Homo sapiens: one gene and its partner. The protein of the gene in region 1 purifies or fractionates together with the protein of each later gene. This does not show direct contact. Each region holds a gene or a part of one and is shown on either strand. Other genes may lie near its edges.

Evidence for each region.
Region 2: the proteins of HPSE2 (region 1) and RNF13 purify together in Homo sapiens (affinity purification with mass spectrometry; one large-scale study listed by BioGRID and IntAct). This does not show direct contact.

What each region holds. Positions count from the first base shown.
Region 1 is NC_000010.11:98,459,583-98,462,874, reverse strand, and holds part of HPSE2 (inactive heparanase-2 isoform 1 precursor), read left to right. Parts: intron 1-1,055; coding exon of another isoform or gene 1,056-1,089; exon of another isoform or gene 1,090-1,125; intron 1,126-3,135; coding exon 3,136-3,292. UniProt on the Homo sapiens protein: Binds heparin and heparan sulfate with high affinity, but lacks heparanase activity. Inhibits HPSE, possibly by competing for its substrates (in vitro).
Region 2 is NC_000003.12:149,868,688-149,872,341, reverse strand, and holds part of RNF13 (E3 ubiquitin-protein ligase RNF13 isoform 1 precursor), read right to left. Parts: intron 314-3,654; coding exon 188-313; intron 1-187. UniProt on the Homo sapiens protein: E3 ubiquitin-protein ligase that regulates cell proliferation. Involved in apoptosis regulation. Mediates ER stress-induced activation of JNK signaling pathway and apoptosis by promoting ERN1 activation and splicing of XBP1 mRNA.

The DNA.
Region 1 (3,292 bases):
ACAGAAGTTCATAGAAAGAATGTAGGTAGGGTAGAGATACAAGCTTAGGGAGCATCAGCTTGTGGATAGTGACCGAAGTCAAGGGTGAGAGCAGCAGCAACCTGGGAGGAGTGCAGAGTGTGGGGACAGAAGAGTCCAGGGACAAAACACTAGGAACCCTAGCATCTGAGAAGCAGGCAGAGGGGAATGGCTCCCTCTCAAAAAAACAAAAACAAAAACGAAAACAAAACGCCATCCAGAAATGGAGGAAAACAGAGAGAAATATCATGGGAGCCAAGGGGAGAGAGGGTTTTGAGAATGGAGACCTGAAAATGTGAGTACCACAGAGCAGTCAGGTATGATAAGGACCAACAAGTGCATCTGTCCACAGTGACATTAAAAACAATAGCAACAACAGGTCAGACACGGTGGCTCATGCCTGTAATCCCAGCATTTTGGGAGGCCAAGGCAGGTGGATCGCTTGAGGTCAGGAGTTCGAGACCAGCCTGGCCAACATGGTGAAACCCCGTCTCTACTAAAAATACGAAAATTAGCCAGGTGTGGTGGCACATGCCTGTAGTCCCAGCTACTCGGGAGGATGAGGCAGGAGAATCATTTGAACCCAGGAGGCAGAGGTTGCAGTGAGCCAAGAATGCACCACTGCACTGCAGCCTGGGCAACAGATCGAGACTCCATCTCAAAAAAATAAATAAATAAAAATAAAAAGAACAACAACAACAAAAACACCATATCTTAAGTATATGGTTCATTATGCTTTCAAAGCACTTTCATATTTCTTATTTCATTTCTTTGGTGCCTATATAACGTTCTTACAGATGCAAAAGCTACAGGGCAGTGAGGTTAGGGGATTTGCCAAAGCCATCTAGCTAGTTAGCAACTTGGCTCCTGGAATTCGAGATTTCAGTAGAGAATCTTCACCATGCTTCCTGGTTCTACTCTTAGCTTTTTAACCAACCAATAAAGAAACCAGAATAGGGCCTGTTCCAGGACAACTACTCCTTATTAGTATAGATTTTTAAAGGTTTGCTAATCACACGTTGTTTTGCACTCCCCAGAACCCAAAGATGTCAATACTGTGGGATCATCTGAATCTAAAAGGGCATTACCTAATTCTTCAGAAGAAAGGTTTGCACCTAATTCTGTATATGGGAGAAACCATTGAAGGTTTTCTAGCAGAGACCTGATATAAATTTGAGTATGCCTTAGAAAGATTAATCGGTATTATTGAACTCGTGTTTGACTGTGCTTATATCTGGGTGATAGATATTCATAGCACCTGAAACAAAATAATGAAAATACACTGTGAAGACCCATCTGGGCTTCTTTTGTAACTGAACCACTCTCCTCACCCTGCCTTCCACTCCAATGAGTAGGCTGTCTTCACTACAGAGGGTCACTTCTCATATTTGGAAGCAAAAGCTCCTTGCATATCTGATGCGGTCAACACTGACCTTCAGATCTCAATTCTCCCACCCCATGCCTTCCAGAGGCAGGCCTCGCTCTCCATATAGAAGCCTCCTACTCACTTATTCACTCAGTCATTCTAGCAAAGGGAGGGGGCCTGCTCCCTCTGGCCTATCAGATCTGGACCTAGCCCAAACTTACCCATGTGGGGCCAGGCCTGGATCTCTTCTCTGCCTAGCTCTCCATTGGGAGCAATTTACAACACACTTATCTCTGGGAATTCACTGCTCTATTGGGCATGGGTCTGATTATCTCTCTCTAAAGCAGTCTATCATTCATAGCACAGAAGGAACACTAAACAAAGACCTCTATATCAATTTATAACATTCTATTCTCTTTACAGCTCAGATGATGTCACGGCAATGTTATCACACTGGAGGTTGGGCAAGGCCCAGAAACAGTCATCACTATGCAATGTTGATTTTCTGAGGGTGACTCACAACCTTATTTCCAGCTGGTGGCCTGTTTCTGGCCTTTTCTGCTGACCCATAAAACTAAGCTTCCACCTGGGTGCATGGCTGTCAGGAACAGCTGGAACATTATCTGGATTCTGGTACCATAGGTCAAGGATAGGTGGCATTTCCCTCTATCCAGCATAAGATGAGCTGTTTCTCTTTTCTAAGTTTGCTATGTATGTAGTCCCCCTTCTCAGGGTGAAAGTGGCTGGCTATACAGAAAGGATAAAAGCAAGATAGATGAATTGTGATCACAAATGCCTACTTTATCACTTACTTTGCTGTTTTGCTAAATGGAAACATCTGTTAATATTAAATATGAAAACTCATTTTTTGTTTTTTTTAGGGACAGAGTTTCTCTGTCACCCAGGATGGAGTATAGTGGTGTAATCTTGGCTCACTGCAGCCTCAACCTCCCAGGCTCAAGTGATCTTCCCACTTCAAACTCCTGAGTAGCCACCATGCCAGGCTAATTTTGCTTTTATATTGTTTGTAGAAATGGGGTCTCGCTATGTTGCTCAGGCTAGTCTCAAACTCCTGGACTCAAGCGATCCTCCCTCTTCAGCCTCCCAAAATGCTGAGATTATAGGCATGAGCCACTGCACCCAGCCAAAACTCATTCTTAAATTAGAAAAAGTAGAGGTGTTACCTATGTCTCTGTCTCCCTTCCGTATAACCTTAGACAAGCAAGGTAATGTCAGTTATCTAATCTGTCAAGTAAATTAATGAGATATGAGTTAAATAGATTTCTGAAGTCATCTTAAGCCCATGTATCATTCCACAGGTAAAAACTCTTTAGGTGGAAAAGTCAAACTGAGCTGATATTGTGATTTTTAAAAAATAGGAATGAAACATTCCAGCTTCTGCATCACAGACTTTTCACTTGTCTAAATGTGTCTATGGAGGTAGACTACCTGGGTTCAAACCCTGGACCTCCAAGCTGTGTGACTTGGGACAAGTCACCTAGCCACTCTAGATAAAATGGGGATAATGATATTAATAGTTACTTACCTCAGGGGAGTGGGGGGGTTGTTGGGATGTTTGAATGAGTTATTAAAGTAAAGCACCTAGGTCAGAATCTAGGGCATAGCCAGTAACAATAAGTGTCAGCTGTGTGTGTGTATCAGACACTGCCAGGCCATCTGGGGCTAGGCTTTGTTGCAGTGGCTCCCTTATAATGCAATAATGAGTCCCATACTGTTTTTCCTCACTGTAGGTCAGTGCAACTGAATGGCCAGCCCTTAGTGATGGTGGACGACGGGACCCTCCCAGAATTGAAGCCCCGCCCCCTTCGGGCCGGCCGGACATTGGTCATCCCTCCAGTCACCATGGGCTTTTATGTGGTCAAGAATGTCAATGCTTTGGCCTGCCGC
Region 2 (3,654 bases), on another chromosome or scaffold:
GATGTCCAACAAATGCCTGAAAATTCTTAGAACCAGTAAACATTATTTCTATTCTATGAATCCAGTTTATTTTCAATCTTACTGGATTTTAAATTTTAAATGTTTTCTGAAACAAGGGAGGATGTAAATGATTTAAATTAGCTAACTGAACAAATAGGAAACAAAAAATGAAAAAAGATAATCATACCTTTATATCAAAATTACAATCAAGTCTTCTAATTAACACGATGAAAGTGCCAGATGAATTGTCTTTTACTGGTGGAGGCACTATGGGTTCACAGGCATTCTCTGGTTTTGAGTTAATCAAAAAACCCTGAAAAAGAATTGGTAAAAATTATCTCTCTGTTTCACTCAGTAAATCAATCAACTTACTTCTACAAATATCTTTTCGATTTGTCATGTGTTTTGCATTATGCTAGATGTATCATTGGGCATGTAAAATTGCTCACAATCACGGAACTTCTAAAGCAGCATTTGCTTTCACAAGCATTTAGTTTTCTAAAATAAGTTCTATCTTTTGTATTGAAGTTAAAAAAATAATAATAATAAGCAAACTCAGGCATAAGCCAATCACCCCAAAGACAACCACTGGTATATTTTCGAACAATATTTGACATTTTCAAACCAAGCAAATATGTCTTAAAAATTAACTTTCTTTCATGTTAGCAGACAATGAAATGCACATAATAAATAAATTTCTAGAAATTTATTCTGCAGAAATGCTAGCCTGAGTATGTAAGGTGTATGTGGAAAGACAGTCATTGGTACATTATTTTTAATAGCAAAAACTGGAAATCATGCATATCCACAAGGTAACTATTTAAACAATTATAGTATATTTATACAATAGGAAAATAATGCAGCCATTTAAAAAAATAAGGAAGACCTGTATACACTAAACTGAAAAGACGTCCACGAGATAACCATGAATTTAAAAAGTAAACAGCAAGTTGCTTTCCCAGGAATGCAGGATGGTTTGACATAAGAAAATGTAGTAACAGGCTGGTCACAGTGACTCACATTTGCAATCCCAGCACTTTGGGAGGCCGAGGCAGATGGATCACCTGAAGTCAGGAGTTCAAGACCAGCCTGGCCAACATGGCAAAACCCCATCTCTACTAAAAATACAAAAATTAGCCGAGCATGGTGGCACACACCTGTAGTCCCAGCTACTTGGGAGGCTGAGGCAGGAGAATGGCTTGAACCCAGGAGGTGGAAGTTGCAGTGAGTCAAGATTCTGCCACTGCACTCCAGCCTGGGCGATAGAGCGAAACTCCGTCTCGGAAAAAAAAAAAAAAAAAAAAAATCTGGTAACAGACTAAAACAGAAAAATCAAATGTCTATCTTTTGTAAAAAGTGAATAAACACATAAAAAGATGATCAAATTCACTGATTTCATTTATAAAGGAAGGAGGCAATTAAAGCTATGAGACAATGCCTTAACAACAGTTCTGTATGGTCCTGAACTGGTCACACCAATCATCTATTCCACAGGATTTGGCAATTTCTCCTCCCTGAAATTATATTGCTCAGCTTGTGATATGGAAAGTGTTTGTACATATCTTGGGTATAAAATGTATCACTCTTTCATTTGCTCATATAATAGCTCCTCTTCTTAATCCCATAAAGCACTCGGTTTTTGTTTTGCAACGAAGTACAACTGTGGTCATCCTTCCAATGATGAATATTTGCTTTATTCTTGTTAAATTTGCATCCTGCTCTGAGTGCCTTTCTGCAAACACTAAGTTTTTGCTCCAATGCTAAATCATATAGTGTAGGAAATATTTTTCAACATGATTATTACAGCAATTAAACTCAAGCCATATAGGTTGGCTTCCAGCTCCAAAATGATGATGCAGAAGCAAGCTGGTTTGACTCCCCCCATAGAAAAAGAAAAACAAATGTACAGCAATGAGATTACGGCCAGAAATAAGCTAGAACTCAAATATAAGGAGAGATCATTCCCAGGGCCACAGAGAAGTAAAAAAAACTCCCAGCAGACAGAGAATCAGACTTCCACATCTACTATGCCCCTCCCCCCATTTTGCCGAGCACCAACTGCAAGGAAAATTTCCCTCCAACTCACTGTTTCTACACTGGAAAAGTAAGACCAAAGTGGAACCAGATTGCCCACTATCTTGGGTTCCCTAGGAGGAGATTTGTCCCTTCCTTAACCCACAGAAAGCATCACAAGTACCTGAAGGGAGAAATATCCATGAGGTAGATAGAGACTAAGAGGGGAAGCAGGACTACAATCCCTAGCCCTGGAAAGGAGAGCCCTCCTTTGTAATTCTACCAAAGGAGATGCCAAATCACAGTAGCTATTCAGTAGCACCATACAGTAGGTTTGTCCCACAGGTCCACTGGGCATGAACCTCCACAGTCAGCCTTCCCACAGTGCCAAGATATCCCTGTTGGGAACTGCCCCTTTGGGAAGGGCAGCATTTTGATAATTTACTAGAGCCAAGGTGAACCTAAGCTTAAGGCATCACCTATAGCCAAAAAGGAGGCAGTAACCTAGCAGTAAATAACCTCTAACCAAATACATCCAATAGAAACCAAAACAAGCCAGACAGAGAAGAACAGAATAAATAACTAATCTTTCAATGCAAAGACACTGACATACATCCACAAGAAACAAGAGCAAGCAGGGAACCATGATCCCCAAATGGACGAAGCAAGAAACCAACAAGCAACCCTAACAAGATGGCAATATGTGAACTTTTTTTTTTTTCTGAGGCGGAGTCTCGCTCTGTCGCCCAGGCTGGAGTGCAGTGGCGGGATCTCGGCTCACTGCAAGCTCCGCCTCCCGGGTTCATGCCATTCTCCTGCCTCAGCCTCCCAAGTAGCTGGGACTACAGGCGCCCGCCACTACGCCCGGCTAATTTTTTGTATTTTTTAGTAGAGACGGGGTTTCACCGTTTTAGCCGGGATGGTCTCGATCTCCTGACCTTGTGATCCGCCCGCCTCAGCCTCCCAAAGTGCTGGGATTACAGGCGTGAGCCACCGCGCCCGGCCTAATATGTGAACTTTTTAACCAAGAATTCAAAATAGTAGTTTTAAGGAAACTCAGTGATCTCCAAGATAACACAGAAAAGAAATTCAGAAATTTATCAGAAAATTTTAACCAGAAAATTGAAATAATTTTGTTTAAATCAAACAAATTTTGGAACTGAGAAATACATCTGCTGACCTGAAAAATTCATTAAAGGCTCTCAACATCAGAATGGATCAAGGAGAAGAAAGAATCAGCCAAGTCAAAGACAGCCTATTTTTTAAGTACACAGAAGAGAAAAAAGAAAAGAGTGAAAAGCAATAAAGATCTCCTACAAGATAAAGAAAATTACCTCAAAAGACTAACTCTAAGAATTATTGTGTTCAAGAGGGAGCTGAGCAAAAGTAAGGTATAGAAAGCTTATTCAAAAAAATAATAAAAAACTTTCCAAAACTTGAGAAAGATGTAAATAACCAGCTACAGGAAGGTCAGAGAACAAACAGATTTGACCCAAATAAGACTACCCCAAGACATACACTAATCAAACTCTCAAAGGTCAAGGACAAAGAGAGGATCCTAAATGCAGCAAGAAAAAAGAAGAAAATGATATACAAAGGAGTTCCAATTCATCTGGCAACAGACTTTTCATTGAAAAACAA